Homo sapiens: one gene and its partners. The protein of the gene in region 1 interacts with the protein of each later gene in a pairwise test. Each region holds a gene or a part of one and is shown on either strand. Other genes may lie near its edges.

Region 1 (8,246 bases):
AGCCCACCTGAGACTTTTCCCTGTTTATTCCCTGGCATTATGAAGTCATCTCTGGAAACTGAAATCATACTAAAAATGTATTATATTGACTGAAGGCATATTTCTTGATCTTAATTTAAAACTGATGTTTCACGTTTCTTCTAAAAAAGTGGGGGCGGTGCAAAGACTAAGTTACTTATCTTTTCTGACTCTGCTCTTCTTAACAGAAGACAGAACCCTCCTCCCACTTTCAAGGTGTTACAACTGAACTCAAGGTGCAGCTGGAGTAACACCCTCCTGCACAAGTGTCCGGTCAGCACCCCTTTCCCACCTCGAGGGCCCCGCCTGAGCCCAGAGACACCGCGAACAACAAAGATGGCTTGGGCAGAGTTGGAGTTTATTTGCTGCAGTTCCTTGGCGCTAGTTTACAAGGCAAAAACAAACAAACAAAAACAATTAGAATAATTATTTCTTAAAAACCCTGTCAACAACTTTCAGTCATTTCTTTATATTTTTGTATTTTGACAAAACTTCTTTTAAACAAATACAAAATAATCTAAAAGGAGAAAAACTATACATAGATTATTTACACCTCTGATAAATAGACTAATACTGACCCAGGTGCCTCTCTGTCTAGGAAACACTTGAGAACCAGGCCAGGGCCCGGGCCAGCTGGACAGGCTCCAGCACCGGCCCAAACACGCCCAGACCTCGGCAGGCACCACCTGGTTCTCCCACCCAGAAAGTTCAGGTTTCCAGCCTGGACCCTCTTCTGTCACCCTCACAAGCTCTGGCACAAAAGTGCCTAAAGCCATTCCCTCCAGGTAGGATCTACACAAAGTGGCGGGGAGGGAGGTGACAGACTGTCCCCCTCTATTCCTCCCACCACTCCTCTGCAAAAGCTATTTCCAGAGATGCTCGCCAACCCTAAAGGATCAGAGGAGCCGTGGCGACGCGGCCCTGTGAAAACCCGCAGCTCCTCCACCTGCCTCCTCAGGGCTGCGCCCTGCACCGCCCTGGTCCAGGGTCCTGTGGAGGGGCGGGGCGAGACGGCCAGACAGCCAGCCACCTGCTCTGCCTGGACTGGCATGCTGGCCCTGGCGGAGTGGCAGGAGCTGCCCTGAGAGTCCCTGAGAGAACGGCAGGAAAATGCTGCGTGTCACGGCTCCCTTCATACTGTAATGAGGAGGGGCAGGGCCAGCTCACACAGCGCCTGCAGGGGAAGACAGAGATGCGAGAGGCAGCCCGGCCACCCCCCTCACTCCAGTGCACCCCACGGAGCAGATAAAGGCCCATCTTCCCCTCTAGGGGGCCCACCACAAAATGCATCCAGAGTAGTCCAGTTAGGGCTGGTTTTGAGGCAGAAAAAGCTGAAGCCCTACGGGGATCGGGGAAGTCCTACTCCTTCCTCTAGAACGAGGACTGGAGTCTGGGGAAGAGGAAGAAAACCCAAAATGAAACAGGTTATCCGGAACCTCTGTCCCGATAACCTTCCTCACAGTTTTGGTTATTAGGTATTTAGCTCAAGGAAAATGCTGACTTTCTACTTTAAAGCCCAACAAGAACTTGGATTCTGAAGGAGGAAAATAACGTAAGCGTCCAGTCAGCTCTCTCCTCTCCTCGGCGCTCCGCAGGCACTTGGGATGGAAAAGCATCCGCGGGAGATGCCGGACTGCACGCTGCTGCCGACTGCGACCCCGGCCAGGGCAGGCCCCCGACTCTGACTGTGCCGTCTGAGGCTCCACTGGGCCTCTGCCCTCTGCGTCCTCGACCTCACCTGTCCATCTCGCCCAGACAAGCACCAGGCAGCGAGCTCCCACAGCACAGGAGAGGCAGGCCAGGCCCTGCCGCGGGCCCAGGCTGATGCCCCTTGGCCGCAGCCCCAGGTGCTCTTCTCCAGGGAGAAGCTCCCCAGCGCAGCCAGGGCAGAATGCACCTGAACAGCCCTACGTTCTCTCTTAAAAAAAAAAAAATAGATCTTTATAGTATGTGGCTTCTCTTCCTTTCCACCTTTTTCTCTTAACATATAATAATATATGGACACATGTATTTATGGTGCAGGGTTTGAAGGCTTCTTCACGGGGACAACCAAGAGGTAAACAGTTGGCTCTGAGCTCTGCTACCAGAACACTGAGCAGAGAAACTGGCCAGGAGGCTGCCCTGCCGACAAGAGCTCTGCCCTGTGAGAGAGGAAGGCTCTGGAGCCCATGCTGGACAGGTGGCCGGTCCTCTCTTCCCCAGTGATAACTGCCCACCCTTCTCCCACTTAAAAAAAATAGCAAAAGCTGAAGCTAGTCTCTAGGAATCCAGGGCGGGGCCTGGCAGAGGACGCTCTGCTCGGCAGCAGTGCATCCATGGAGGTGCGGGAGAAGAGCAGGAGCTCCAAGGCCCCCGCAGACCAACGCCCTTGGCTGCACGCTCAGTGTCGCTTCGTGGAGGAGACCTTCTTTTTCCGTGCTGCGAGCATTTCGTAGAAAGGGTCCCTGCTGATGGCTGCTCTGGAGCACAGAAAAGGGAGAAAACAGAGACGTGAGGGACAGAATCAGAAGAAACACACCCAGGCAGGGGATTCTCAGGGGCCCCTCGTGCCCCAGAACACCTGTCCCACCCCACCATCACTGCAAAGGCCAAGTTAGCGTCCTCCACCCTTGCTGTGTCCACACAGTGACCTAAGGTGACACACTTCGAAAGAGACACAGGAACACGTGACAAGAAAATTTTGGGGTTTTTACCTGTTTCAACATAATAATCAATTCACATTTAGGAACAGAATCATACCACATTCTTACAGCTATATTCCAATTCAGAGAAAAAGACTGGTGCTTGAGTTTCCATGATGACATCTGACTTTGCTTTGCAGCAGCGAGTGCCACGTAATCAAGCCGTGTCACATGCAGTCCTCTGGCACGGGGTGTGTGATAGCTGGCATGGTAATGCAGTGGGGCCTTCCAAGCCCCCCACGTGCACCTGCTCAGTAACTAAGGCTCCATGACTCTGCAGGCGGCACTGCCCAGCACGATGCTGCTGGTGGGGCACCATGGACAGACCGGCTGGACCTGGCTGGGTCTCCGGTGCACAGGGAGGGGGCCCGAGCTCATGCTTGTGCTACAGCCTCAAAGACAGCAGCGCAGGCCGCGCCGCGGGCTGGAGCACCTGCAGTGGACTGGCAACACCACAACCCTATGTCTGCCATTCTCGACTTTCAAGCAACTTATGGTCTAAAAGTCCTGACACTTAATTTCTTTCCAGGGAAGCTGTATCCTAAGTGATGATTTGTTCCAGAGCTCGGGCACAAGCCTCCTGACTGCAGGCAGGGCACTCACCCCTGCTGAACGGTGGCACCAGCAGCTGCTATGGCTCTCCTGGGCTGACCTGGAACCTATTCACAAGAGACAGTGTGTCCATGAGAAAATGCTTCCGCAGCTCCCCGGGGAATGCTAGGAACTGAAGAGCACTAGAAACATGTCCCGATGGGATCTCACTGGGAAGCGGTCTGACCACCTGAAGTGCTTTCACGAGGGAATCTGGCGGCCGGGACACCTGCTTTCATGTTTGGAGGTGTTGGGGTGAATCTCCCTTGGCTTCCTGGGTAGGCCAACCCTTTCGGGTAAGCTGGGGGGTTCTGCAGAGAGGTGCGTGTGGCACTGCCCTGTGTGCAGAGGCAGAGTGTCAGGCGATGAGGGGGGCTGGGCTGCGGTCGGACACCAGGCCCCAGGCCCGGCCCTGCCTGGCCCTGCCTGCTGCTTCTCAACTCCCGCTTCCTCACATGCAAGCTGGAGATGCCCCACCTCCACCTCCCTGGGTTCCGGAGAGTCAAAAAGAGATCCCATATTCAAAGAGCACATCTCAGCGCCTAGCCGACACACTCGATGGCAGCCGCTGTTACCGCTGACACGCAGTTCTACTGCTGTACCTCTGGGTACAGCGTGAAGAAAGTCCCAGCATTAGAGAACACACCTGATTCTACAGAACCGAATGCTGGGACCACCCACACGCAGGGGCACTAGAACTGAGGGTGCTGGGAACTCCAGGAAAAGCACTTCGTGAGAGGAAAACACGTCCTGAACTTGACCTCGAAAGCCTTTCTGGCAATACTGGGGAGGAGGCATCCACCAGCCAGATCATCTTCCTGCTCCTGTTGTCACCAATGTTTCCACTGGGAGGAGTATCTAGGGCCAAGGACAGCTGAGGCTGCACGGTGGTTACCAGTGCAGCTGCATGAGTCACACTGCTCAGGTTTGAGGACCAGCTCCACCTCTGTGGGGTTTTGGACAACTTACTCAACTTTGCTGTGCCTCAGTGTCCCTCATCTGTGAAATGGGGATAATCCTAATGGTCCCACCTCGCACTGGGTGCAAGAAGGTTTGAGGACAGTGTGCCTGCAGAGTGCCAAAGGGGGTGTCTGCAGATCCCGAGGCTGAGGCCAGCCCGCTCCGGGACAGAGCAGAGGAGTCCAGCAAGCCCACAGGAGAACTTGGCACTCACGCTCATGAAAGGATTGAATGATTCTAAATGTGACTTTGAAAAATGCTTAGTTTTTCTGACTATAGAAGTAAAAACCATATGAAAGACACATGTACAAAACCAGCCAAAACTGTTTTGAAAGACCAGTGAGGGAGGACAGGGAACTCGCCAGCCAGCACAGTCAAAGGACACCACGATGCCACAGGGGGAGGGGCGGGCGGCGCTCACGCTGGGAGGCGCGGTGGAGCAACAGGTGCATGAAGCGTGGTGGGGGAGCTGGGTACACTCTAAGGAGAGCATATGAAGTCAGTGGGGGCGATGCCAATGAATCCATAAATGGTGTCCGGACCATCAGCTATTCATTCATGAGAACAAACTTAAACCCTTACTTCAAATCTTATATAAAAAATACATTTCATAATGATTCAATAAATTTTTTTTTCAGTATGTTAAAAAAAAGGATACCGGTCCCCCACAACACTGCTGTTTTCTTCCCCAGAACACAGGGCTGGTGCCATTACTGGTAGGGGACTCTGAAAACACCGTGGCACCGCGTCTGCTCAATGGAGGGTGGGCTGGCCCCCGCTCAGGGCCACACTTCCCATGATGGCTGTCATGCCAGGGAAGCTGCCAAACCCCATGCCCACTACACAATCTCATTTAATCCTCAAAAGAGCCCCATGAGGCAGAAATGACCTCTATCACACAGAAGAGGTAGGTTACCCACCTACCAGGCACTGCGCTCAGAGAGACAGAGCGAGGAGTCTCAGCGCAGCGTGACCTGGCGCCAAATCCATCCTCTCTCCAGCTGGTTCCTGTCTGTTTTCATTGCATGAATTTTCAGATTACTTTTGAGAGGATAAATCATCTATTCCTTTCCCTCCATCATCACATCATCTCCATCTTCAGTCAGTTTTAAGGTATTTAGCTTGGGCCAAAACCTACACTGGTCTGAGTAGAAATACCAAAAGATAAAACAAAGGCTAGAGGATATTGCACACCCTCGGGAACGGGGCTGTAGCCTGGGTGGGAGAAAGCCCGTCACACAGTACACAGAGGACTTACAGGGACCTTCGCAGTCACCTGTGGGCACATTCTCCCTGTCTTCCAGGTGAAGTCACACAGGCAGCTGAGGAGTCTTTCTCAGGAAAACAGCTAGGTGAACTCTCATGGATGAAGCACCAGGAGGGAGAGGGCAAGGCTGTGCTCTTAGGAGAAAGGATCACTGAGAGAAGGCAAAGTCAGAATGCTCACTGCTGACCCTCGCACAGGGACTGGAGGGAGGAGAAAGCATCACTGAGAGAAGGCAAAGTCAGAATGCTCACTGCTGACCCTCGCACAGGGACTGGAGGGAGAGCCAGGCAGACCAAGTCCCAGGGAAGAACATTAAGCAAGAGAAGCCAACTGACTTTAGAAAGCCATGTTTCCAGATACTTGTCACATGAGGAAATTTCCAGCCCCGTGATAGACCTTACATGGCGTGGCCCAGTGGAGCCAACAGAGCCGAGAGGTAGGAGTCAGAGGCCTGGACTTGGGAGCTCCACTTCTTAGCTGTGGAACCCTGAGGAAGCTTCTCCCTCCTCCCGGACCTTGGATCACGGTATGTGACTTCCAGCAAATTTCTTAACCTCTATGGGCCTCAGTTTCCTCATCTGTAGCTAGGAAAATGGTGTCTCACAGGATTCACAAATTACAGAACATGACTACTATCTCCTCTGAGCTGTCACTATGAGAATGAGAGCGGCTTCGTCAGACACAGAAAGACCAGTTGAGCAGATGGCATCTGTGTGGGTAGCTCACTCGCCTCTTCCTATTTTGGGTCTATGAGGACACGTGGGGAACCCAGATGGGACGTGCTCTCTTACATATGCTATAATAGCCAAGAATCCAAAGGCCTCCTGGGAAGCCGTCAGCTGGGAACCAGGACGAAGCTTCCCTAAGAACTTGGAGCACAGAAGAGATGCGGGCGGCATGTTTAACCACTAAGATGATCAACACCTGGTGAGGTGAGGGCTGCACCAGGCGCGCACTGCCCTTTCTCAGCAGTCACTTACTTAATGCACTTAATCCACTCCTCCTTCTCCTCGGGCGTCGGAGCTGAGATCCGGTAAACAGTGTGGTTCCCCTCCACCACCCGCCCGTCAGCCTCGGTCTTGCAGGCCTTGATAACTTGGTCTTTATTGTCGGGGATATAAAGCTCAAAGCAGTTCTGAGAATCAAAACAGAGAGGGAGAGAGTGGAGCAAAGGAAGCTGTTAACTGAGAAACATGCTGATTTCTTTCCCCAAAACCCCTTTCTTCTGACCTTCACAAAATACAAGGAATACATATTTTCCTGTGGAAAAGTGAAGCCTAGAAGCGGAATTCTAGAGACTGTAAATTGTATAGAAGTCAGTCTCGTTTGCAAACACACCGGCCTGATATAAGCTGGCCCCACTTGCAATGTACGTAAAATGCGGAGAGAACTGCAGGTGACTCACGACTTTAACTTCAAGCCAGTAACATCCTGACAGCCCAAAACAAAGGAAAACTAAACGGGAGGTGTCCCAAGGGTATAAACTACATAGCCCACTCCTGCGTGCTTGCCGCTGCCATTGCAGGAGGGGCAACTTCTACACCCCATGTGACATTCACTAAGTGAAACGATAAAGCAGACAGACGGCACAGGAAGAAGTGATTTCGAGTCTCATCTTTGGCTTGAACAATATAATAAAAAATTAGACTAAATAAAAGCCTGATCACGCTTTTCAGTTTTTTGGTTTTGAGTTTTTTAAAAAAAATCTTTGAAATGCCCATCCCCTTTCTCCCCTCAAAATATCTCAGCAAAAATACTCACTGGTTTTTTGGAGTCCTCCACTTCCCGGATACTCAGATTCTCTAAAGGGATGATTCCACGGGGCTCCTTATCCTACAGAACAGTTGAAGAGAGGAAGTTTAAGATCACAGTTTAAGGACACACACTGTCAGATTCCTCGCCGGTGACTCAGCCGAACTTTCCTGCTTTCTCCCAGGACATGAAGTTCATAAATCAGCCTGAGGGAACTCCTTACATTCTAAACAAGAATAACACCAAAAATGTCTGAGGATTGTCAATATAACTGCTAAGTCCTCCGCGAGTAGAAAGACCAGAAGATTCAACAGACACCGTGAGAGTGTGGCCGGCAGTGACCCGGGCACGGTCCTCAAGCAGGGAGTGTGCGGGCCCCTTTCCCTCTTCCCTTTGCCTGGCTCTCCCACTCACCTCTGAAGCCTCAGTTCTGGGGCAACAACTCCAGGAAGCCTTTCCTAGTTTCACCCTAGCGCCCCGATGCCTGGGACTGCAGCTGTGGGTCTGACCATTAACCACTCACTGCCTCTGTCCATCGCCCCACCGCCAGACAGTACAATCCTCAGAGACACTGCCATCCTGACAACTCCACCTGGATTTCCAAAGGCACCTTGACTCCTGTCCAGAACAGAGCTGCACCCGCCAACTAGTCCCATCTCATCTACAGAGGGCACGGCACCGCAGACACTTCCAGCACACGCCTGACGGCAGTTTCACAGTCCCCTGATATCCAGCCAACCCATGGCCAAGTCCTAGCACTGTTAAAGTCTTTATATTTGGCCAGGAGAATGGTGTGAACCCAGGAGACGGAGCCTGCAGTGGGCCCAGATAGCGCCACTGCACTCCAGCCTGGGTGACAGAGCAAGACTCTGTCTCAAAAAAAAAAAAAAAAAACCAACCAGTTCTATGAGTTCTCTAAAAGCGAAAAAGAGTCTTTCAGCCATTTCCCCATCCTGGCTAGCAACTATTTCCAACTT
Region 2 (7,623 bases), on another chromosome or scaffold:
CATCATCTGTGAGTGTATAATTTTCAATTTGCCTAAATTCAGAAAATCGCTCTTGTTGGCTAATACTACTTCTGTAATTTCAATGATGTTGACTTAGTGTCACTCTTAATTATATTTTTCTGTAGAACAATTTATTGAAACCCAAACAGTTAGCTACCAGGGCCTATACAGGAAAAGACAGATTATTCCAGAGTCTGAAATATGAGTGAATTATTCTCAGTATATGGTGGATCATAAGGATGATTAGAGTAGAAAGAAGTTAGAGGATTTCCCTGTTCCTCCCAAAAAAAACACATCCATGATACACTTTCATTGTTTTAAATAAATTTTGATAACATTGGACTCACCTATATTTAAATGCAAATAAAAAATTAAAAAATAAGCCCACAGAAGCTCTAATAAGACCATTGTTTATTTGCCACCGTGCTTTATCTCTTTTCACTCATTTTATGTTTTGTAAATAGTTAAGAATTGACTAGATTTTTAGAACCTTACCCTTTAGCTGCATAAATGTAACAAAACCCAAAAGGGCTGTTATGTCATTTAACCGAGGTAAAATTTGGGAACCAGTTATTTTGCATATCTCATAGAAAATATCTGAGACAACAATGATGTGGTATAGAATGATACTTGGTATTTCACTCATGTATTTGTTATGTGTATATGAGTGTTTTGTGTGTATATATACATATATATATATGAGAAAGAGAGAAATAATACTTTTTATGTTTTCAAAAAATTAGCAGAAGTACTCTAAAAACAGTTAAGGGGGTAGGTACTATAACGACAGAGATTATCACATTGTTTACTTGATAGAGGAAAATTAATTTCAAACTTTCAAAACCCATACCGAATATAAATAATGTTATTGGAAATGTTTGACAAATTAAGTACCTGGTTAATTATTGGTACTCTAGGGCATTCATATCTTTGTTTTATATATATATATATATATATATATATATATATATTTTATTATTATACTTTAAGTTCTAGGGTACATGTGCACAACGTGCAGGTTTGTGACATATGTATACATGTGCCATGTTGGTGTGCTGCACCCAGTAACTTGTCATTTACATTAGGTATATCTCCTAATGCTATCCCTCCCCCATCCCCCCACCCCACAACAGGCCCGTGTGTGTGATGTTCCCCTTCCTGTGTCCAAGTGTTCTCATTGTTCAGTTCCCACCTATGAGTGAGAACATGTGGTGTTTGGTTTTTTGTCCTTGAGATAGTTTGCTGAGAATGATGGTTTCCAGCTTCATCCATGTCCATGAACTCATCATTTTTTATGGCTGCATAGTATTCCATGGTGTATATGTGCCACATTTGCTTAATCCAGTCTATCATTGTTGGACGATACAACTTCACTACATAGAAAATCAAGGTCAATGCTTCATGCTTTTGTCTGCTAATTTAATTAGTAATAGGAGTGAGGGATTGGAATGTGCTTTCAGGATACGCATTAGTTCCTTTTGCTACCTTAGCAAGTAATTTAATAGAAACCTTATGTACATTTGCACTTTCAAGTATGTGTGCTGATGAAAACTCACGTGATGCATTGATACTAAAGGCCACATTCTACCCCCTTGAACATAGGGAATGCATATGGTAGTTCATCTTAACTAAATCTAAGGGCTCTTCGTAAAATACCTTAAACTTTCAAAAACCTAAAAAGCAGTTTGGGCAGCTCTAATGCACTTGTATTTCTGATGGCAGATGACTTTAATCCCTAGTTTTCCCCAACCATCAGTCACTCTTATATGTCCTTTCTCAGGACTTCCAGAAATCATTTTCTAAAAAGCCACGTGAACTACTATGATTATGCCACCAGACACTATTTAGATAAATCCTCAGAGTTTATTCAGGTAGTTTCAGTTGCTGTCTTGCCATTCTGTTTTCTGCCCCTGTATCATGTCAATTATTAGATTTTTAATAACATAGCAGAAAATGAGTTGCCTTCTGCTGCCCAAGGGTCTTTTTCCATGATTGTAGGAAATGAACATTGAAATGATAATCTCCTGAAGGCTCTGGCTTATGGGAAGAGAGTTATTTGTTATTATTTTGTGTAGCTTTGAAGTTGACACTAGTATGACTATGTTGCTTTTGAACCACATGAAAGAAAGTAATTTAATGTTCTAGGATGTAAATACCGCAGCTCACAAAGATTGATTGAAGTGAATGAGAAGTTCATGTGTTGATATTAATGTGCAGTGGAAGGGATGTCTGAGTTTTCTTTTTTTGAGAATTAAGTTAAATGCCTGTCATTCTCCTATAGTGTGTGTGTGTGTGTGTGTTTTACATCATGGACCCACAAAGAGGCCATAGCTCCCATTTAAACCTGCTGTCCTAGACAAAAATCCATGCACACTCATATACATATTTTAGGTATACAGACCAGAGAATGTGAAGGGAGTAATGTCCTCTGTGGGCTGGAAATGATTGCTTTACAACAGGAATTCTGTCTCAATGGAATTGCTTTACTTCAGGGAAAACAGAAATGGGCAAACTGCAGTGGTCTATGCAGGTATGGATGGACCATTCTCACACCTAACCAAGCAATGTTTGCTTTTCCTCCTCCTTTCTTCCCATCACTAGTTGCCATGTACCGAGAACCATCTTTGCATGATGTTGGGGAAACGGTCCCGAAGCCTGGGGTGACGCCAAGTAAAAGCACAAGTGCGTCTGCAATAATGAATGGAGGCAAACCAGTCAACAAGAGTAAGACAACATAGCCAGATCCTCACAGGTGTTGTGACTTATTCGTCCTGAGCACAGTTGAGTGATTTATCCTCACCAGACATTCCTGCTCCGTGGCTGAAGAGCAGCAGGAAGTAAGCTAATGCTTATTCTTTGCTGTCTCCGAACTTCTCTGTTGCAAGTGGATAAATCTCAACCTGTTGCACCCCCCACAACAAGAAGACACCTGGATAACCAGCTAAACTCAGACCATGGAATGCCCTACCAGATATGGAATGCCTTTTTAATATCTTTTCTGTGACTGTGACACTTCATGTGAATGACATACTTCACAAGTACACTCGATACCTTGCCTGCTGACAGCTACCCATAATCCTTTTTGAGTCCTGTTTCAGCGAAATCTATGTGTTTAAGTTCAATTTTGTAGCACACAAATAATATTGAGTAATTTCTAGTTAGACGCTGTAAACCTGTGCTATTACGGATTTCTCTTCTTCCCATTTTTACAGGGCTGCTCGCTCCACTGTCTGTGACCTTTTGCAGGGATTTTGTTCCTCTAAATCTTAAATGTTGCAGTTGGCTTAGGTCGGAGAGCAATCAGGGAATCAGGAAGCCTTCTAAACCTATTATTACAAATTGCATCTATAAAGAAAGATTAAGAAAGATTGTTGTCTCTGGCTCACACTATCGATTAAACACACATATACGCTCTGTCCAGTAGCAGATACTGTGCTCCCAAGGTCGGCATTGCCTGGGTGGGAAATGGCTCAAACACAATCCAGGGAAGCTCTCTATGATATGTGTTTGACATCCCCCTCTAGTTTCTTTGTGTGTGTGTGTTTTATACATATCACAAGCTTACTGGTAATGGTAACATTTGCCTTGCCCAGCGAGCAAGACCCACTGGTTTTTGAGAAAGTGGGTCCAAAGATTTCTGTAGGCCTTGTAGGCCTGATTAAGGTTCATTTTTCATCTATTAATTCTCATTATTTGGAAAAAAAAAAAAAGGAAAATCAGTAATTATAACCTACAAGAATTGCGCTACCTAAATCCATTTCAGATATACTCCGTCCTGTTTTTAATGAACCAAACTTAACGCCATCCCCGTTTCTGGCTGCGTTCCCCTCATACTCAGCAGAGCATGGGCAAGACGGCTGTTGTGTTCTTTCCTGCAGCAGCAATGCAAACGTTAGTTATAAATTAATTAGACTTTAATATTTTTGGTGTTTAATGACAAGTTTTTAAACTGGACATATTAGGAAAAATATTTTTTTTAGCTCAGCATGCTGAGTCCGGTACTGTGTATTTCACCAGTACATGCCTCTAGCTCAGCATCTGGGGCTCATGTTGCCCAGTGGCTGGGTTAGAGGTGCCTTGCCATGATCTCAGAATACAGTCTGTTGAATTATCCTAGATGAAAATAAAGGCAAACCAACACATTCATCCATGAGGATTTTGGTCCATTCCATTTATTTTCTTTTATTTTGCATTCTTAATTTCCTTTTTAGTTTAACACTGTTTGTTTGAGCTTAGGGAAGACAACTACCAAGAAAGGCCAGGAACAGTTGACTACACAATGAAGATTCCATGCAAAATGTTCAATATTGGATCTAAAGGGGTTCAAAATGTTTCATACTAAACTGTTTGGGAATTTATTTGTTAACTCTGTGTACACCTAATAAAATTCAATGTTTTCTTCTCAGAAGAGTTCATTGAGACCAAACTGAACCTCATTTATTGAAAATTATATGTGGGATCAATGTACTGGCCTCTTGTTATTCTTTCTATGTGGGAGGATGACCCAGTCATCATTTTCCCCATCTGCACTGTATTTATTGGGAAATTATTTTGTCACTGCTTTCATAAATCTTCTTCATGACAGCCCTTGCCCAGCATTAAAAAATTCTGGCCTGCTTAGCTGATTAAAGGTTTAGTAGAAATTTAACTGTTTGTTTATGCTTATTTCATTTTCATATTGGATTCTACTTGAATAAATAAAAAGTTAGCAGAACGTTTGAGTAGATTTATTGCCAATGATGCTAAATTACAAATCTAACAAACAAAATGATTCCTTTGGTCATTTTTGATTTGGTGTTATGTCATCTTGAAGCCTATTGTTTTTAACAGGAACAGTTAAAATATATTAGATAACTTCCATTAACCAATTATTTTCAGAAAACATAGATCCCATAATATGTGGCCAACTATATGAGTAATTAACTAACTTGTAATACAGTCAAATGGGCTTATGGACACTACTTACAGCAGCAACACTTCACTTCACACAAACACACACATATACACACACACACACACACACACACACACACACACAGAGCAAACACCCCCATCTATTTGTTACTGATAATTAGCCCTACTTGCTGGTTTCTTTTTCCCCTGCAAGTCTGTTTATTGGTTTAAATTAAGACAAGATTTATTTTTGTAAATGACTGAGATTTATGTAAATGTGTATCTCTGTTGTGTTTTATATATGGGGTGTCTATAAGGGCATTTATCCCTATGAAGGATGTCAAATACTTTCTTCTAATATATGTTTAGACATATTGCAGAGGGGTCCTTGTTATTTGTAATTGAGTTAGGTCATTTACTTTGTGTCTGGTCTCACCTGTAGCATGGGAAGAGGACAGCAATGATGAGCTGCATGTAGTAGGTACCTGTGTATCAAGAACTGTTGGTATGTATTGCTAATTTGCATACAAAGAGTTTGTCTGTCTGCATTGTAGTTTGTGTTTAATATCATTTGTTAAATTCACAAATACAACATATTGAATAAAATATTTATATGAAGGCATATTAAAAAACATCAAACAACTTTATGTAACAAAATGGCATTGCATTACTCACCAATATAGAGAAATGTCATGTAAATAAGTTGGTAAACTCAATTTCCCCCTTTACCATGCCAAAGAAAATTTTAGCTCTTTGATGATACCTCTCTTGCTATTTGTTTGGGATAAGACTTCGCCATTTTTTTCCCCTCAGAAATTAAGTTTGCTGTTATTAAGTAAGAAGTGCAATCTGTCACTACTGATGTTCCGTATAGTAAATCTGATGGAATTCATTTGTATTTAGACTGTGTGTTTTGTACCTCCATGTGCATATGTCCATTGTATCAAGTCTCTATAATACTCCATTCCTTCTGCATGCATATCTGGTGTGGGAGGGTTATTTCTACTGATTTGTTATAGTAGCTGATTGCTTTGCCAGTCCCTCAACAACGCTCAGAAATGTTGTTTTGGTATTTCAAGTGACAACATTTTTGTTTTCTAATATAAGATTGCTTTTTAAAACATTTTGCTACCACTTTACTTGGAAAAATTAGAGAAGACATGACAATTCTCCACCCTATGTAAAGAGCAAAATGGAACTGAACATCATTTCATTACAAATCCTGAAGAATTTGGAGATTCTTGCTCTAAATGTTTGCTTGTCCTGAATGTTTTTGGGTAGCAGTGGCTTAAAGAGATCCACGATGGGTCCAAAGGACTCCCGCTCCAGTTCTTCTAATAGTTTGCCTCTTGGGGAGCAAGCAGAAGTTCTTTATCATACCTAGCCACTTGCTTAATTAATGCTTTAAGCACTAAAAGTTGTTATTTTTATCAGGATGAACAATATCAGATTTGGTTGTCTTTAAAAGCAAAAACCAAAAACTTATTCTTTAAGTAAGTTAGACACGTATCACTTCATTTAAAATTATCTCCCTAATATTATGGATCATTAATATTTGATACATATTCAAAAAGAGACCACATTGACTAACATCCAGTTGAGAACAAGATGAAAATAATTGAAATATTTTTTCCATTTTAATTCAGAACAAGGCTATATCAAGGGAAAGCGACTGGGCTAAATCCTCAATTTTTTTTTCCAAAATGCAGGCATATCAAAATCCAGGATGTACATGGTCTTACTTTGAGTGAAATAGTAGTCATAGCTGAGGTTTCTTAGCCTACAATGTGACATAGGGCCTGTTGACTCTCTTGAATATGGAGTAGGGTTTCAAAGTGTTGACAGTTGAGTCTGCAAACTAAGGCTGAGTTATATTTTAGTTTTTTTTTTTTTTCCTGGTTTTCACTAAGTCTAATTCCAATGTCTACTGGCAGAGATTGTGTTTGCATTTGAGGTAGTGGAGGGCGGTACTTTCCAAGTGCTGTTGGAATCCAGATAAACTCAAGGAGCCCAGAAAGACAACGGGTATAATGGCTCTCCTCTTATGACTTAGCACTTTAGTTGACTTTTTTGAAAAAGTCTCTGGGTGGAATACCTCAGTGATGATGATTTGCCAAACAAGCAGCGTTAGTGCCAACACCTTCTCTAAACTTGCTGCATCCCTTCCAATTGACATTAATCCCACTGCAACTTCCTAAAAACAGGAATGAGCCAATGAGATTTGCTTATTTTCTCTCACCCATTACAAGTAAGTTTGTTCTTGCCCTGCTTGTTTTTTAGAGGGAGTTTCTATCATAGAGTTGAAAATCACATTTAAGAAGGAAAGAGTTTATGTCTTTACATGTAACTATTTTATTTTTTCCAATCTAAATTCAATCACTTCTTAATAGATATATTGGTGTTTGCATTGCTGGCATCAAAACCACACATACACACACAAACACACACATACACACAAACATAGTGGACAGAAATAAGTAAAAATATTTCTGTTTTCAAAGAAAAAGCATTCCTTAGAGTTTAGGTACCATTAACTTCTACTATAATACAGTTCCGGTACTATGGTTTCTAACTAAATGAACACTAGAACAGAGCTGACTATATTTTCATCTTTGTCCAAAATTTTAGATGAATCACATTTTGAACTTTTTATGGTATGATAATTTCTCCAATATCTAAATTCTTTTTCTGAGAAAACAAATGCCGAGGACATTTTTGACACTCTTCTTA
Region 3 (7,623 bases), on another chromosome or scaffold:
AAAAGGCTGAAAACTACAAATTTTGCTATTATTATTGTTATTACTTCCCAAGTCTCTTATTGATCTGTTAGAAATAGAGCTACACAGGAAATTGTAGGACAGTTAGTATGTGGTAGTGTTATCTGCTTTTTAATTATTCAAGTAAGGTTTTATTCCATTAGAGGAACTCAAGAAGTTGGTCATGGCTGATAATTGCTATCTGTCAAATTCCTTAGAGCAGGGATCCGCAACACCCAGGCCATGGATTGTTACCAGTCCCTGGCCTGTTAGGAACCAGGCTGCACAGTAGGAAGTGAGCGGCGGGTGAGCAAACATTGCCATCTGAGCTCTGTCTCCTTTCAGATCAGCAGCAGCATTAGATTCTCATAGAAGCATGAGCCCTGTTGTGAACTGCACATGCAAGGGATCTAGGTTGTGTGCTCCTTATGAGAATCCAATTCCTTATGATAATTTAACTGATGATCTAAGGTGGAACCATTTCATCCCAAAACCATCCACCCTGCTACTCCCAGACCGTGGAAAAATTGTCTTCCACAAAACTGGTTCCTGCTGCCAAAAAGGTTGGGACCACTGCCTTAGAGTTTATAATTTGGGGTTAGCACAGCCTATATTTACCTGAGAATTTCAATGGGTTCACTGATCTTTCCAAATGAAAAGGCTTCTTACGAAAATTATATCCAAACTGTCTTTTCTCTTAGTTTAATAAACCTATCAGTAAGTTTTTACTGAGTACTGCTATTACATTTTTCTCTGTTAAGCATTATGGGGGCTCAGACATGATCCATTCCCTCAAAGAACTTACCTTTCAGCTGAAGACTGACTAGAATGAGCAAATACGGTTAACAATTAACAAGTGAGTAGGCCAGCTCGGCCAACATGGTGAAACCCTGTCTCTACTAAAAATACAAAAATTAGCCGGGCATGGTGGTGGGCGCCTGTAATCCCAGCTACCTCCTGCTGAGGCAGGAGAATTGCTTGAACCCAGGAGGTGGAGATTGCAGTGAGCCGAGATTGCACCATTGCACTCCAGCCTGGGCGACAGAGCAAGACTCTGTCTTGGGAAAAAAACAAAACAAAACAAGTGAGAAGGGAATCAAGTACTACGTAAGATGTAATGTGGAATTTTAGGGAAGGAAGGCAGTGTATGCTGGAGTAATTAGAGAAAGGGGCATGCATGATTTGATGCTTGAACTGGATCATGAAGGATAAGCAAGATTTTGGCAGCAAGTGAGAGGGAGAGAGGAGTTTGTCAGAGGAATGGAACAAGTCAGGAGGCAGTAATGTGTACGGCACTCCAAGGACTCTGTCCTGATCGGAGCAGAAGTGATGAAGCATTGAGTAGTTTGAGAAAGTTAGCTAAGAAGGGTGAGGGCAGATGTTGGAGAGAGTTGAGTATCAGAGAGAAGACATTAGATTTGAGCAGATAGAACAAAAATGCCATTGCCAGTTTTTGTGTAAGAGAATAGTATTAGGGTGGTTACCCAGGAAGTGGTCATCAGAGTTGAATGGAGCAGAAAGAGTGTCTGATACAGCATCGGGACGTTGTGGTCACAAAATGAGGTGGTGAGGGCTGAGCCAAGATGGTGGCAGTGGGATGGATAAAAAGGGATGGCCAGGACAAATATTTTAAAGGAAAAATTAACAGGACATCTTTACTGACTGGATTGGAAGGCTATGCAGGAAATATATTGTCAAACTTGATTCCAGGATTTCTATCCTATGCCTGGGTTGCCCAAAATATCAGGGAACCATTGTTAGAAAAGGTAGGAGATACCACTGTTCCAACAAAAAGTATTGAGTTTGGTGTTGCACCCACTTAACTTCAAGGCCTTACAAGTGAGTAGACAGTTAGTTAGAATTGCAGAAGTGCCACTCAGAGAGCAGGGCTTGCAATGTGGGGTTGGACTTTGTCACCATTGTGTTAATTCCTAATTCTATGCAGATGCTCAGCTTGAGGAATACCCATGTTTGGGCTTCAGAATGAAAGCCAAGTAATATTTACTCAGATGCCAATTTTCCCTCTGAAATATTTGCTCATGGAACTGAGAGAACAATATATAAAGCATTAATTATTTTTCTCATAAAGTTATTAATAAAAAGATAAGATCAGTGAAAGGCAGAGTAAACTAGAAGCCAAGTATAGAAAATGGTATCATTCAAAGACTCATTACTGTAGTGGTGAAAACAAAACAATTTTCCAACAGCTTAAGATGCCTCAGTATTTTGGACCATTTTTAAGTAGTTAGTGTGGGCACTTAGTAAATATGTATTAAACTATAGTTCATTAATTCTTTTTTTTTTTTTTTTGAGATGGAGTTTCACTCTGGTCACCCAGGCTGCATTTTTGCTTTCTTAGTGATATATAAAATGTCGAGTTTCACAATGATGGTATCTTAGATTTGATTAAATATGGTATTAAAAAATAGCTGATCACAGAAAGTCTCTACCAGTGTGATGTAGATGGCTAAAGTATTCCACATTTGCAAACTTTTATTGACCTAAATAAGAGGTGCCCCTTGGGTTGTTTTTATTTGGACTGGGAATATTAGGAGAAAGCTTTTTCATTCAGTGTGTAAGTACAATCTACCAGAAATAGAAACCCCCATGGACGATCTATTTCTTTGATGGTACAGGACTCAGAACATTCACAAAGATTTAGTTGTTAGCGGAATAGACATCTGTATTTTATTCAAACCAATTTTCCCTTCCTAATCTGAGAACATTGTGCAATCTAAGCAGTTCTAAGCATGTTTGCTATTCGTGCAAAGTGAGAGTAAATCTAAAAGAAATTTTTTTGTGTGTTTAGGGATGGTAATAAAGTCTCTTAGTGGTTGAAAATGTTATTTCTTACAAAAGTGGAGAACATTTGCTTTTCAATACCAGAGTTTTCAGCCATTTCTGCATTCTGACCTATTGACTGGAGGTAGGTTGCCTTTGAATTCAGTAAAACTTCATGGGCAGAAACACAGTTCCTTTTCCTACTTATTTGGATATCATGATGGCCATTGCATGTATGTGTCTTTTTGTAAGTCCATGCCTCAGAACTGAGAAGTAGGAATAAAATTAGGGTCAGGGCTGGGGATGCTACTCTTTGCTGCTGAGAAACACAATGCTTCAGGTAAGTGATTCTGAAGTCCTTCACCACCTGACGGTAACCTTGGGTTGGTCCATAGGTATGTTTTCATTTTGCTTGTTCATCCATTTTAATTGGCTTCCTAGAGCATGCTTGTAGATGTAGAGCCAAATTTAGAGTAGAGCAACCCTCTGGCAAACAGGAAGAGATTAATTTTGTGGTATGCTTTTAAGGGACTTCCCAGGAAACTTCAAAAGCAGAAAAAGAAGCACTAGCTGCCTATTCCAAAATGTGTAAAACACCACTCAGCTTTTTAAAAGTAGGATAAACTCAGAGCGCGCGCACACGCGCGCGCGCACACACACACACACACACAGAGAGAACATCTCTAGTAAAAAGAAAAGTTGAGCTTTCTTAGCTAGATGTGTGTATTAGCCAGAAAAAGCCAAGGAGTGAAGGGTTTTAGAGAACTGGAGGAGATAAAGTGGAGTCTGCATATGGGAGGCATTTGAAATGGACTTAAATGTCTTTTTAATGCTGACTTTTTCAGTTTTCTCCTTACCAGACACATTGTTTTCATGACATTAGCCCCAGGCATAGACACATCATTAAAATGAACATGTCAAAAAATGATTTCTGTTTAGAAATAAGCAAAACATTTTCAGTTGTGACCACCCAGGTGTAGAATAAAGAACAGTGGAATTGGGAGCCCTGAGTTCTAACATAAACTTTCTTCATGACATAAGGCAAGTCTTCTATGGCCTTTGGTTTCCTTACCTGTAAAACAGGATGGCTCAATGAAATTATCTTTCTTCTTTGCTATAATAGAGTATCTCTGTGGGAAGAGGAAAAAAAAAGTCAATTTAAAGGCTCCTTATAGTTCCCCAACTGCTGTTTTATTGTGCTATTCATGCCTAGACATCACATAGCTAGAAAGGCCCATCAGACCCCTCAGGCCACTGCTGTTCCTGTCACACATTCCTGCAAAGGACCATGTTGCTAACTTGAAAAAAATTACTATTAATTACACTTGCAGTTGTTGCTTAGTAACATTTATGATTTTGTGTTTCTCGTGACAGCATGAGCAGAGATCATTAAAAATTAAACTTACAAAGCTGCTAAAGTGGGAAGAAGGAGAACTTGAAGCCACAATTTTTGCACTTGCTTAGAAGCCATCTAATCTCAGGTTTATATGCTAGATCTTGGGGGAAACACTGCATGTCTCTGGTTTATATTAAACCACATACAGCACACTACTGACACTGATTTGTGTCTGGTGCAGCTGGAGTTTATCACCAAGACATAAAAAAACCTTGACCCTGCAGAATGGCCTGGAATTACAATCAGATGGGCCACATGGCATCCCGGTGAAAGAAAGCCCTAACCAGTTTTCTGTCTTGTTTCTGCTTTCTCCCTACAGTTCCACCAGGTGAGAAGAGTGATGACCATCCTTTTCCTTACTATGGTTATTTCATACTTTGGTTGCATGAAGGCTGCCCCCATGAAAGAAGCAAACATCCGAGGACAAGGTGGCTTGGCCTACCCAGGTGTGCGGACCCATGGGACTCTGGAGAGCGTGAATGGGCCCAAGGCAGGTTCAAGAGGCTTGACATCATTGGCTGACACTTTCGAACACGTGATAGAAGAGCTGTTGGATGAGGACCAGAAAGTTCGGCCCAATGAAGAAAACAATAAGGACGCAGACTTGTACACGTCCAGGGTGATGCTCAGTAGTCAAGTGCCTTTGGAGCCTCCTCTTCTCTTTCTGCTGGAGGAATACAAAAATTACCTAGATGCTGCAAACATGTCCATGAGGGTCCGGCGCCACTCTGACCCTGCCCGCCGAGGGGAGCTGAGCGTGTGTGACAGTATTAGTGAGTGGGTAACGGCGGCAGACAAAAAGACTGCAGTGGACATGTCGGGCGGGACGGTCACAGTCCTTGAAAAGGTCCCTGTATCAAAAGGCCAACTGAAGCAATACTTCTACGAGACCAAGTGCAATCCCATGGGTTACACAAAAGAAGGCTGCAGGGGCATAGACAAAAGGCATTGGAACTCCCAGTGCCGAACTACCCAGTCGTACGTGCGGGCCCTTACCATGGATAGCAAAAAGAGAATTGGCTGGCGATTCATAAGGATAGACACTTCTTGTGTATGTACATTGACCATTAAAAGGGGAAGATAGTGGATTTATGTTGTATAGATTAGATTATATTGAGACAAAAATTATCTATTTGTATATATACATAACAGGGTAAATTATTCAGTTAAGAAAAAAATAATTTTATGAACTGCATGTATAAATGAAGTTTATACAGTACAGTGGTTCTACAATCTATTTATTGGACATGTCCATGACCAGAAGGGAAACAGTCATTTGCGCACAACTTAAAAAGTCTGCATTACATTCCTTGATAATGTTGTGGTTTGTTGCCGTTGCCAAGAACTGAAAACATAAAAAGTTAAAAAAAATAATAAATTGCATGCTGCTTTAATTGTGAATTGATAATAAACTGTCCTCTTTCAGAAAACAGAAAAAAAACACACACACACACAACAAAAATTTGAACCAAAACATTCCGTTTACATTTTAGACAGTAAGTATCTTCGTTCTTGTTAGTACTATATCTGTTTTACTGCTTTTAACTTCTGATAGCGTTGGAATTAAAACAATGTCAAGGTGCTGTTGTCATTGCTTTACTGGCTTAGGGGATGGGGGATGGGGGGTATATTTTTGTTTGTTTTGTGTTTTTTTTTCGTTTGTTTGTTTTGTTTTTTAGTTCCCACAGGGAGTAGAGATGGGGAAAGAATTCCTACAATATATATTCTGGCTGATAAAAGATACATTTGTATGTTGTGAAGATGTTTGCAATATCGATCAGATGACTAGAAAGTGAATAAAAATTAAGGCAACTGAACAAAAAAATGCTCACACTCCACATCCCGTGATGCACCTCCCAGGCCCCGCTCATTCTTTGGGCGTTGGTCAGAGTAAGCTGCTTTTGACGGAAGGACCTATGTTTGCTCAGAACACATTCTTTCCCCCCCTCCCCCTCTGGTCTCCTCTTTGTTTTGTTTTAAGGAAGAAAAATCAGTTGCGCGTTCTGAAATATTTTACCACTGCTGTGAACAAGTGAACACATTGTGTCACATCATGACACTCGTATAAGCATGGAGAACAGTGATTTTTTTTTAGAACAGAAAACAACAAAAAATAACCCCAAAATGAAGATTATTTTTTATGAGGAGTGAACATTTGGGTAAATCATGGCTAAGCTTAAAAAAAACTCATGGTGAGGCTTAACAATGTCTTGTAAGCAAAAGGTAGAGCCCTGTATCAACCCAGAAACACCTAGATCAGAACAGGAATCCACATTGCCAGTGACATGAGACTGAACAGCCAAATGGAGGCTATGTGGAGTTGGCATTGCATTTACCGGCAGTGCGGGAGGAATTTCTGAGTGGCCATCCCAAGGTCTAGGTGGAGGTGGGGCATGGTATTTGAGACATTCCAAAACGAAGGCCTCTGAAGGACCCTTCAGAGGTGGCTCTGGAATGACATGTGTCAAGCTGCTTGGACCTCGTGCTTTAAGTGCCTACATTATCTAACTGTGCTCAAGAGGTTCTCGACTGGAGGACCACACTCAAGCCGACTTATGCCCACCATCCCACCTCTGGATAATTTTGCATAAAATTGGATTAGCCTGGAGCAGGTTGGGAGCCAAATGTGGCATTTGTGATCATGAGATTGATGCAATGAGATAGAAGATGTTTGCTACCTGAACACTTATTGCTTTGAAACTAGACTTGAGGAAACCAGGGTTTATCTTTTGAGAACTTTTGGTAAGGGAAAAGGGAACAGGAAAAGAAACCCCAAACTCAGGCCGAATGATCAAGGGGACCCATAGGAAATCTTGTCCAGAGACAAGACTTCGGGAAGGTGTCTGGACATTCAGAACACCAAGACTTGAAGGTGCCTTGCTCAATGGAAGAGGCCAGGACAGAGCTGACAAAATTTTGCTCCCCAGTGAAGGCCACAGCAACCTTCTGCCCATCCTGTCTGTTCATGGAGAGGGTCCCTGCCTCACCTCTGCCATTTTGGGTTAGGAGAAGTCAAGTTGGGAGCCTGAAATAGTGGTTCTTGGAAAAATGGATCCCCAGTGAAAACTAGAGCTCTAAGCCCATTCAGCCCATTTCACACCTGAAAATGTTAGTGATCACCACTTGGACCAGCATCCTTAAGTATCAGAAAGCCCCAAGCAATTGCTGCATCTTAGTAGGGTGAGGGATAAGCAAAAGAGGATGTTCACCATAACCCAGGAATGAAGATACCATCAGCAAAGAATTTCAATTTGTTCAGTCTTTCATTTAGAGCTAGTCTTTCACAGTACCATCTGAATACCTCTTTGAAAGAAGGAAGACTTTACGTAGTGTAGATTTGTTTTGTGTTGTTTGAAAATATTATCTTTGTAATTATTTTTAATATGTAAGGAATGCTTGGAATATCTGCTGTATGTCAACTTTATGCAGCTTCCTTTTGAGGGACAAAT

Evidence for each region. The genes of interacting proteins can lie anywhere in the genome.
Region 2: the proteins of CYTH1 (region 1) and FGF14 interact in binary tests that used the Homo sapiens proteins (3 or more experiments, as listed by UniProt).
Region 3: the proteins of CYTH1 (region 1) and BDNF interact in binary tests that used the Homo sapiens proteins (3 or more experiments, as listed by UniProt).

What each region holds. Positions count from the first base shown.
Region 1 is NC_000017.11:78,673,693-78,681,938, forward strand, and holds the end of CYTH1 (cytohesin-1), read right to left. Parts: intron 7,351-8,246; coding exon 7,279-7,350; intron 6,653-7,278; coding exon 6,498-6,652; coding exon of another isoform or gene 6,494-6,497; exon of another isoform or gene 3,359-6,493; coding exon of another isoform or gene 3,331-3,358; exon of another isoform or gene 2,478-3,330; coding exon 2,399-2,477; 3' UTR 356-2,398; downstream 1-355. UniProt on the Homo sapiens protein: Promotes guanine-nucleotide exchange on ARF1, ARF5 and ARF6. Promotes the activation of ARF factors through replacement of GDP with GTP.
Region 2 is NC_000013.11:101,717,946-101,725,568, reverse strand, and holds part of FGF14 (fibroblast growth factor 14), read left to right. Parts: intron 1-2,601; coding exon 2,602-2,738; 3' UTR 2,739-7,623. UniProt on the Homo sapiens protein: Probably involved in nervous system development and function.
Region 3 is NC_000011.10:27,655,456-27,663,078, reverse strand, and holds part of BDNF (neurotrophic factor BDNF precursor form isoform a preproprotein), read left to right. Parts: intron 1-2,806; exon of another isoform or gene 2,807-2,923; intron 2,924-3,420; exon of another isoform or gene 3,421-4,493; coding exon of another isoform or gene 4,494-4,514; coding exon 4,515-5,258; 3' UTR 5,259-7,623. UniProt on the Homo sapiens protein: Important signaling molecule that activates signaling cascades downstream of NTRK2. During development, promotes the survival and differentiation of selected neuronal populations of the peripheral and central nervous systems.